Regions from separate parts of the Homo sapiens genome. Here region 1 is linked to region 2. Evidence: fine-mapped expression QTL. Tissue or cell type: whole blood. Region 2 holds a variant in brackets; the other region holds the start of a gene. All regions are shown on one strand. Distances are from middle to middle.

What was found.
Region 1: ZNF268 starts here. The variant in region 2 is fine-mapped to the expression of ZNF268 in whole blood (INTERVAL, PIP above 0.99).

The regions. Positions count from the first base shown.
Region 1 is chr12:133,178,420-133,183,805 of GRCh38, reverse strand. It overlaps ZNF268 (zinc finger protein 268), which reads right to left and starts at 2,311. Exons shown (of 6, transcript NM_003415.3): 1 at 2,120-2,311; 2 at 1,776-1,860. The coding sequence starts at 1,808. RefSeq lists enhancers at 1,924-2,123, 2,164-2,473, 2,069-2,593.
Region 2 is chr12:133,157,090-133,162,475 of GRCh38, reverse strand. ZNF10 (zinc finger protein 10) reads right to left here. Exons shown (of 5, transcript NM_015394.5): 5 at 3,011-5,386. Among named protein-coding and RNA genes, the nearest start is that of ZNF268, 22 kb to the left of the region's middle. RefSeq lists an enhancer at 2,432-2,601. The variant C/G (reference allele first, on the strand shown) is at 2,231.

The sequences.
Region 1 (5,386 bases), 21 kb before region 2:
TTCCCTGACCACTGTCCTCAGTTCTCTTCTTAGGGTACACATTCTCCCTGAGCTACTTTGGCCACACCTAATTTGCAACCTCTACCTAGAGGAGCCAATCCATACAAAACTGAAATCTTCCCCCTCTACCAATCACAATTCTGACAGTCTTCCCTTACTCAGCAAATGGTGACACTCCCAACCAGGCCCACAGAGTAGAACTCCAGTTGTCATCCCTGGCTTTTCTGCCTCTCTTAGCACTGCACCCAACTAGTTATGAAATCTAATTTCTTCTGCCTCTTTACCTCCTCTCCTTTTTTTTTTTTTGAGACAGAGTCTTGCTCTGTCACCCAGGCTGGAGTGCAGTGGCGCGATCTCGGCTGACTGCAACCTCTGCCTCCTGGGTTCAAGCGATTCTCCTGTCTCAGCCTCCCGAGTAACAGGGATTACAGGTGGGAGCCACTGCACCCAGCCACCTCCTCTCCTTTCTCAAAACCACTAATTTACTTAAACCCTTATATTCTCTTACCTGCTGCAGACTAGACTGTTCTACCCTCAAATCCGTTGTGAAAACACTTCAATAAGTAAACTCCTTCCCCTATACCAACAGTCCCCAACCAGGGACTCGTTTTGTGGAGGACAATTTTTCCATGGACGGGCAGTCGGGTGCGGCGATGGCTTCTGGATGAAACTGTTCCACTTCAGATCATCAGGCATTAGAGTCCCATAAGAAGTGCGCAACCTAGATCTTTCGCATGCGCAGTTCACAATAGGGTTTGTGCTATGAAAAGCTAATGCAGCCTCTGATAGGAGGCGGGGCTCCGGCAGTCATGCTCACTAAACCGCCACTCGCCTCCTGCCATGCACCCCAGTTCCTAACAGACCACAGACTGGTACCAGTCTGAAGCGTGGGGGTTGGGGACCACCTGCCCTATGTGATACAATCCAAGTTTTTAATGGGGTCCTCAAAGCCCTCTATGATCTTAGGCCTACGGCTCTAGCCTCATTTTTTAATATAACTCTACTATCACCATTAAACTCAACATTTTAGCAACCCTAAAGTGCCCAAAGTTCACCACATGAGGTCATTTCAAGCCTCTCAAATTTGCACGTTACTTCTTTTTCCTAGGCTGGTTTTAATCCTTTGTCTACTTTAGGTTTGTCATCTTTCAAACCTAAGGTTAAGAATCTCTTAATCATTGAAGCATTTGGGAGTAAGGGGTTAGGGGGTGTCCTTACTTCCAAAACTGACCCATTCCTGCATGTCTCCGTGTATTTCCACAGCCTGCTCCCAGAGCACTCATTAACTTGTCATTGTCTTTCTTATCCACCATTCCTAGACCACTGTTCTTCAAGACAGGGATGATAAGCAACCCATCTTTGCATTTTTAGCACCTGCCCCAGGGTCCAGCAAACAAAATACAATAAAAAAAAATGTTGAACAAGTGAATAAAAAAGTTTGTAATTTCCAAAATAAGGTTTAAAGATCCCAGATACAGAAGGCCCTCAGTAAATAAAGGCTGAAAAAACTGAAAGATGTGTGAGTATCCCTTGTTTAACTCCAAAGTTCAGCGTACAAAGTTGTTAGAAAAGAGATTGATGAAAGGAGGAAAAAAGGAAGTCGGATGACAAGAAGCATTTCTGGAAAGTCTAACATGCTATAAATGACGATCCAGTTGCCTAAAAGAGCGGTGGGGTGAGAAAGCTCCTGGCAAATTCAGACTGGAGTAGATGGAGTGCGCACACGTTGGCATTCAGGGAGAGCTTTTCAAGAATGAAAGAAAACCCCTACTCACCCAAATAGAAGCTGTCCGGACCCTGGTGGCCATCCCTACGGTCAGTTTTGTGTGCCTCGCTGGAAGTGACAGGACGCGAGGGATGCTAGAAGAGAGAGCACAGTGAAGAAAGAGGTCACCCAGCAGTCCCCAAACCCAGAGGGGGAGGGTCCGAGGCACCAGGGCTGCCTGCCATTCTCGGAGCTGAGGCTCCTTCCCTCCCACAGCACGGGATTCACCATCTCCACACCCTCACCAACACACAGGTTAGGGTCAGGCAACCGCCCCGGGTCAGCAGCAGGAGAGAGCTAAGGCAGATTAGTTCTGTCCCGTCCCGCCGCCTTGAAACCGGAGGAATTCCGCACCTCCGGCTCCTCCAAACCCTGAAGGGGCAGCAGAATAGAGTCCAGGGTACTGCCTCCACCTCCAGATCTGCAGCCAGAAGGGTTCGCAACCACTCCAGACTCGGCTGGCCCGTTGACCACGACGGGCGATGAACGCTATCTGAGGAACAAGGATCTCGCCATCGGCGCGGAACAATGGCGGCCGCTACGTATGTCGCACAGGAATTGCGTCATGGAGAGGCAAAGGCAAAAAAACTACAACTCCCAGAGGCCTCTGCGAGGAGTTACTCCCGCGCCGGAGGGCTCCGGCCAAGGGCCACCGGGAGGGGGCGTGCTAAGATGACCCGGAAGCTCAGGCCTTCCTGGCCAGGTCCCTGAGCTCCCGCGCTTGCAGGTTTTAAATTTTAAAGAGAATTAAAATACTTGACACCAATGGCTCAACGGTTGGAGGGATGTAAATTAGGTTACAAGTGTTCTAGTCCCTGCTTTACTGAAATGGTAAAAGTCTTATTTTGCTTTACACTTTAATAACAGATTCGTAAAATTCCCATTACATGTTAACATAAATAATATTTTAATGAAAATTACATATATTTTACAAAAGAAAAAATTTAGTAAGGAGTGGCTTCGCTTTTTAAGTCTTTTCTGACTTACTAGAAAGCTGGATTCTCATATCTGCTTCTATGTTTAATCTGTTGCGTATGTTGTTTTTGTTAAAGTATATAAAGATACAAGTCGAACAAGGGATAGTTTTGTTAGTGTACAATCTGAAACCACGTAGATGAACTTTTTCTACTCTATTACATAAAATCCGTTGGTCTACACTGCACTTTGAATGGATTCTTTTATCACGCATGATTTCGTAACATCATGTATTGGCCAGTTGGAAAATATTGGTTTACTTTAATGGCAAAAGCCGCAATTACTTACTTTTGCACCAACGGAAAATATCCACTAATCATTATTGATCTTAAGTATTGGGAAGAGGTGACATTCACAGAGGCAGATACAAGTTTTCTAGAATTCTTTTGTTTTTGGCTTTTAAAAACTTTTATAAATTTATGAGGTACAAGTGTAATTTTGTTACATGCATCAGTTGTGTAGTGGTGATGTCAAGGCTTTTAAGGTATCCACGCCCTATAGTACGTTATATGCATTGTACCAGTCAGGTAATTTATGATTATCCCTGAAACCCCCCCACACCTTTTGAGTCTTCATTGTCTATCATCCCACACTCTACATCCATGTGTACATATCCTTTAGCTCATACTTAAAGTGAAAACATGTGTTTTTCTTTCTGTGCCTGAGTTGTTTCACTGAAGATAGTGGCCACTAGTTCCATCCATGATGCTGCAAAAGACAATTTCATTCTTTCTTATGGCTGAATAGTATTCCATTGTGTATATATAACACATTTTCTTTATTCATCCATTCATGGACATTTAGGTTAATTCCATACCTGTGATATTGTGAATAGTGCTGTGATAAACATATGAGTGCAGGTATTTTTTTTATATATATAATGATTTCCTTTGGGTAGATACTCAGTAACAGGATTGCTTTATCAAATGGTAATTCTATTTTTAGTTCTTTGAGAATTCTCCACACTGTTTTCCATAGGTTATACTAATTTCACTTTCTCACCAACAGTGTATAGGAGTTTCCTTTTCTCCACATCCTCACCAACATCTTCTTTGTCTTTTTATTTTTATTATTTTATTTTATTTTTTGAGACGGAGTTTTGCTCTTGTTACCCAGGCTAGAGTGCAGTGGCCCGATCTCGGCTCACCGCAACCTCCGCCCAGGTTCAAGCAATTCTCCTGCCTCAGCCTCCTGAGTAGCTGGGATTACAGGCATGCACCACCACACCCGGCTAATTTTGTATTTTTAGTGGAGACAGGTTTCTCCATGTTGGTCAGGCTGGTCGCAAACTCCCGACCTTAGGTGATCCGGTCACCTCAGTTTACCAAAGTGCTGGGATTACAGGCATGAGCCACCGAGCTCGGCCTGTTTTTGTTTGTTTTGATTTTTTTTTCCTTTTGAGACGGAGTCTCGCTCTGTCGCCCAGGCTGGAGTGCAGTGGCGCGATCTGGGCTCACTGCAAGCTCCGCCTCCCGGGTTCACGCCATTCTCCTGCCTCAGCCTCCCAAGTAGCTGGGACTACAGGGGCCCGCCACCACGCCTGGCTACTTTTTTGTATTTTTTAGTAGAGACGGGGTTTCGCCGTGTTAGCCAGGATGGTCTTAATCTCCTGATCTCGTGATCTGCCCGCCTCGGCCTCCCAAAGTGCTGGGATTACAGGCGTGAGCCACCGCACCCGGCCCGGCCTGTCTTTTTAATAACAGCTACTGTGACTGATGTAAGATAATATCTCTTTTTTTTCCCCCACAACCTCGCTCTGTCGCCCAGGCTGGAGTGCAGTGGCTTGATCTCGGCTCACTGCAACCTCCGCCTCCTGGGTTCAAGCAATTCTCCCCGCCTCAGCCTCCCAAGTAGCTGGGATTACAGGTGCCCACCACCATGCCCGGCTAATTTTTGTATTTTTTATGAGAGACGTGGTTTCGCCATGTTAGCCAGACTGGTCTTGAACTCCTGATCTCAGGTGATCTGCTCACCTCGGCCTCCCAAACTGCTGGGATTACAGGCGTGAGCCACAGCGCCCGGCCTCATTGTGGTTTAAATTTGCATTTCTCTGATGTTTAGTGATGATGTTGAGCATATTTTCATATGCCTGTTGGCCATTTGTATGTCTTCTTTTGTAAAGTGTTATTTGTGTTCTTTGCCTGCTTCTTAATGGGATTATTTGGGTTTCGTTGTTGTTGTTGATCTGTTTGAGTTCCCTGTAAACTCTAGATATTAGTCCCCTCTTGTATGCAAAGCTTGCAAAAATTTTCTCCCATTCTGCAAGTGTCTCTTCACTCTGCTTACTGTTTATTTCACTATGAAGAAGATTTTTAGTTTAAGTCCCATTTCTCTCTTTTTCTGTTTGTTGCATGTGCTTTTGAGGTCTTAGTCATGAATTATTTACCCAGACCAATGTCCAGAGGGGTTTTCCGTAGGTTTTCTTCTAGTATGTTTATAGTTTCAGGTATTCCATTTAAGTCTTTAATACAGCTTGAGTTGATTTTTGTATATGGCGAGAGATAAGGGTCAAGTTTCATTCTTCTGCATATGGCAATCCAATTTTCCCAGCACCATTTATTGAAGAGGTTGTATTTTCCCCATGCTTGTTCTTGTTGACTTTGTCAAAGATCAGTTGGCTGTAGATATGTGGCTTTATTTCTGGGA
Region 2 (5,386 bases):
TCTCCATATAATTTCTTCAGCTGTAAGCAGTTTCAGTGGTACCTGTGATTTCCTCAGTGGCTTAGAGCACCATCGTTGGTGTAGACTGTAGTAGTTTTGCTGGAGATAGGGATTCCAGGTGGGCCAGCCCTTGTGCCCCAGGGCCCAAGGGAGTGGGAGTGGTGGGCCAAGCATGCTTGTCAACGGGGCTCCTGGGATGCAGATATGCAGGAGCTATTGAGCACCAATGCAGGGTGAAGTGTGGTAGGGTCTGGGCTCTCAAAATGGCACTGTGCTGCAGCTACTTAGGACTCAGGGTGTGTGTAAGACCCAGTGTATGCCCCATCTCTGTAGCAATGCCATCATGTGGTCTCCAGGCAGCTACTATGTTGGTCTTAGGGCCTGTGAGGGTTGAGGAAATTTCCCATGCTAGGATTGCAAGAAACCATGGTGGAAATGTGGACTGCTAGGGAATCTCTCACATACCCTTTCCTCACATTGGGGTGTTTCTCTGGGTTCTCAGTCAATCTCCAGTGGCTGAGCAGGCTACCTCACCTCCCTCTGCTTCCTTGCCTTAGGTGTTTTCTATCACTTCTCTGTTGAATTATATGTCCTCTCTTAGATGATCTACTCAAAGTGTGATTATATACTTGCCATTTTTGGTTCCTCTTTGTGAATGAGGTGAGTACCAAATGCCTTTAGTCAGTCATCTTGAAGCCCGCCCTCTAAACATAGGTTTTATATTCACTAGGAAACCAAAAATATTGTGTGACTTCCTTATGATGATTGATTGCTTTGTTGTGGTGGTGTAGAATGAAGCCTGCAGTATCTCCAAGGAATGCCTGTAATCTGTTCACTTTTTAAAATTTACTTTCTGTTCCTCACACATATAATTCCAATTGTTTTATCTCCAAGTTTGCTGATTTACCTTCTGTCTGCTCAAATATGCTGTTAAACCTCTATACTGAATTTTTCATTTCAGTTATACTTTTCATCTCCAGAATTTCTCTTCAGTTCTTTTTAATAATTTCTATCTGTTTATCGATATCACCATTTTGTCTAATAAGTTCAATGTCTAGGCAGTGAGGACTGATTCAGGAACACTCATGTGAAAAGCTTCTATTTCCCAAACATATTATCACAGCATTCTCCAGCACTTTTTAACTGAAAAACCCTTCAGATCAGTATATGACAAAATTCATTAGAATTTTAAAAAATTGGCCGGGTGCAGTGGCTCACGCCTGTAATCCCAGCACTTTGGGAGGCCGAGGTGGGCAGATCATGAGGTCAGGAGATCAAGACCATCCTTGGCTAACAGGGTGAAACCCCGTCTCTACTAAAAATACAAAAAAATTAGCCAGGCGTGGTGGTGGGCGCCTGTGGTCCCAGCTACTCGGGAGGCTGAGGCAGGAGAATGGCATGAACCCGGAAGGCAGAGCTTGCAGTGAGCCAGATCGCACCACTGCACTCCAGCCTGAGTTACAGAGCGAGACTCCGTCTCAAAAAATAAATAAATAAATAAAATAAAGATTAATTTCGGGAGGACTGCCATCTTAACAATACTGAGTTTTCCCATCCTTGACCAAGGTATATTTCTCCGTTTCTTTTGTGTTATTTATTCTTATTATATGTTCCTTAACTTCTTCCAGCAATGTTTTATAGTTTTCACTGTGCAGGTCTTTCATGTTTCATTAAATTTATCTAAGTATTTCACATTTTTTCTATCATTGTAAATGGGATTATATTTCTAATTTCATTTCCTAATTGGTCACTGTTAGTCCAAGCTGCAACATTTTATAAACCCCCAACCATTTCACAGACCCTGGTCAAGGCGATTCTTCAGGGGCTTGGGCCATGAGAAACATCCTACCTAACCACCTGACAACAGGAACATCTTTATCAAATGCTGCCAGGCAGCAAGCCATACCACCCAGACCCCTTCCACCCAGACCTATAATTACCCCAGCCTGAAAGCAGCAGTGGGCTCCGGCACTAAGCTGGTCCCCTCTCTGCAGGTTTTTGCTGGCAATAAACCTGTGTTTCTGTTGAGCCACTCTCTCTTTAACCCTCACCTTTCCTTCAAAACCTAACTTTTTTTGTATCATTATAAATGGAACTGTATTTCCAATTTCATTTCCTAATTGGTCACTGCTAGCATATAGAAATAAAATTGATTTTTGTAACCTCATATCCTATGACCGTGCTAAATTCCTTTATTAAGGTTCTAGTAGCTTTTCTTTTTAACGGAAAA[C/G]GAAGAGTCTCACTCTGTCACCCAGGCTAGAGTGCAGTGGTGCGATCCTGGCTCACTGCAATCTCCGCCTCCCGGGTTCAAGAGATTCTCCTGCCTCAGCCTCCCGAGTAGCTGGGATTACAGATGTGCGTCACCACACCCAGCTAATTTTTGTATTTTTAGTAGAGACAGGGTTTCACCATGTTGGCCAGGCTGGTCTTGAACTCCCAACCTCAGGTGATCCACCCGCCTCAGCCTCCCAAAGTGCTGGGATTACAGGCGTAAGCCACCGTGCTGGGCCTCTAGTAGCTTATTAATATGTATGAGCCCTCACACCCCTTTTTTGGAGACAGGGTCTCACCCTGTTGCCCAGGCTGGAGTGCAGTGCTGTGATAATTCACTGCAACCTCAAACTCTGGTCTCAAGTGGTCCTCCTGCCTCAGGGCCTTTTAAGTAGCTAGGACTATAGGTATGCACCACCACACCTAATTTTTAAACTTTCTGTAGAGACAGGGTCTCGCAATGTTGCCCAGGCTGGTCTTGAACTCAGTCAATCCTCCTCCCTCAGCCTCCCAAGTTGTTGGGATTATAAGCATGAGCTAACACACTGGGCCTTGGTATGAGCTTCTGAAGAAAAAAAAAATTCCATCACTGAGGAGATTGTTTTCCTAATTCTACAAGTAAGATATATTATTTCAGGAGGCTTTGGAAAGAACTGAAAAGTGTAAAAATAGAAAAGGAAACACCAATTTTCCCAATATATAGGCTAACTACTGTTAATATTTTGACAAATCTCCTTAGTTTTGGGCAACACTCATTTTTTACATTTATTTTGACATATTTGAGCTTATTCCATATTAACAATTATTTATCATGCTTTTGTAACACATGACAGCATTTTTCCTTTACCAAACTTTTTGTGTACATATTTTAATGCCTGCATAATCTTCCATTACACGGATATGCCACAAATATTATGCTAGTGTACATTTTTTATTTTGCAAATTATGCACTGTCATAAATATTTCAGTGATCATCCTCATACATATTTCTGTCTTCATTACAAGTTAGACCCTTAAGGTGTTAACAATAGTAATATTATTAATGGCACCTACTATGTGCCAGGCACTCTTTTATGTGATTCATACATATCATCTCAATCCACATGACAACGCTTTGAGGTAGATACTAGTAGTAACCTCATTATACAGTTGAGGAAATTGAGCCACAGGTTATTAGCAATGTTAAGAGCCCCAGTTAAGTGACTATTCTACTCCCTTAATGAAAACCATTTCTGATAGGTATGTTGTATGTGGGCATGGTGTGTACACAGTGAGAAGAGCAGCAGGAAACATGAAACCCAGGACCTAGTTCTGAGTCTGACTTCACTGAAAATGTGAGACCGGGGCCAATTCACTTGATCTCAATTGTACAACGACAAGTATGAGCTAGAGGCTGCCATGTTCCTCGTAGTTCTCAAGTCTCCTGATTCTAACCATCATTTCTAGGTTTTTTCCTCAGAGAGAGATCAAGATCTCTGGTTGGCTTCAGCAATACTTCATCTATCATTCAACAATCAATCATTGAGCAGCTAATATTTATGCCAGAAAATGGAGAATCATGGTCAGTCCCTATATACAACAGACTGATTTATAGAATGAAAGAGAAAATTAAAATAGATCCTCTTCCTGAATCTTTTGTGGGTTATTAACTTACCAGAGAATCTGAAGACTGGGATCCTCTCCATAGAATGGAAAACCTTTGTACAAACAGAATAAATGTGTATACAACATTACAAGCTGTTTATTGATCCTCAGAAATGAAACCTATATCCACTATTTGTCAGTGATTTTCCCAGGCTGTTGAGTTCTGATTTAGGCAAAAGGGAAAAACCATGTATGACTGTAAGGGAAGTGAGAACTCAGTAAATTCTTATAAGCACACAAGCAGATTTCAATTAAATAACAGATATTAGGGTGCGGCAATATTATTAATAATCACAGCCAGTAACTACAGAGAACATAATATATGTCAGGCACTATTCTAAGCTGTTTCCATTTACTCATTTAATACTCACCATAATCCTACCAGGTAAGTACTATTATTATCGCTAATTTACAGATGAGGATATCAGTAAGTTTGGCACAGAGAAGCTAAGCAGCATGTTCAAGATCACCCAGCTAGTGGGGTTTCAACCTGGGTAGTCTAGCTCAAGTCTACGCTCTTAAACACTAATCTTTCTTTATAAAGATAAAAGACTACCTTGAGAAAGAGGGTATCTTTGGACTGTGCTCTGTTTATCACATGAGGACACTTGCTCTAAATATTGTTTAAATACTTGTTCCCACTAAAATGGGGACCCTCCCTGATATGTTCAAATGCCCAATGTTCCCCTAGGTCCTAACATCCAGAGAATTACTGTGTTTTTAAATTCTCAGGAGCTTTTGCAGTGCTAATAAGAGTGGAAAAAGTGGAACTCTGTGACCCAAAACAATTTAGAATAGGAAAGCTCATTAACAGGTGGTACTCAAAAGCTTCTTTGATGGTAGAATAGAGAAACTAGATATCCTCTTACAATATTTAAAAGTTTCTTAAAATAATTATTACAGCAACATTAAACAGACTATAAAACTCAGTCAAAATCTCCTTATCTAACAAATCAATTCTGTTCAATTATCTGTATACTTTCAATTCTTGCCCACATGCAAATGTACTTAAAAATGGGTTAGCACTGGTAGTGGAGATGTGTTGTTTTTAATTGTACTACATTATAAGCATTTTTCTTGCTGTTAACCAAAATATGGTTTCTACCAGACACATAAAACATACCAAACACTACTAAATGTCCCAGAAGAGAGACATAGTCAAGAAAACAATGACATATTGACTGAAATATTATTTTCCATCTTTTGTTGCATTAACTGTATCATTTCTTAATTCTCAGCAACAACTCTCCCTATAGTAGCATACTCATTTCTTTTCAAATGAAGGGGTTCTCGCTCAACAACTCACCTATTTAATAATTCCTTCTCAGATTCTAGCATTTAAGACTTGGTCAAGAATGCTCTCAGGCCAATTACTTCTGTAGGAATTCATGAAAAGAAGAAAATCTGATGGATTTGTGTACTGAAATAAAATCTGTGGTTTCTTTCCCTTCCAGGACCAATTCTCTAATGT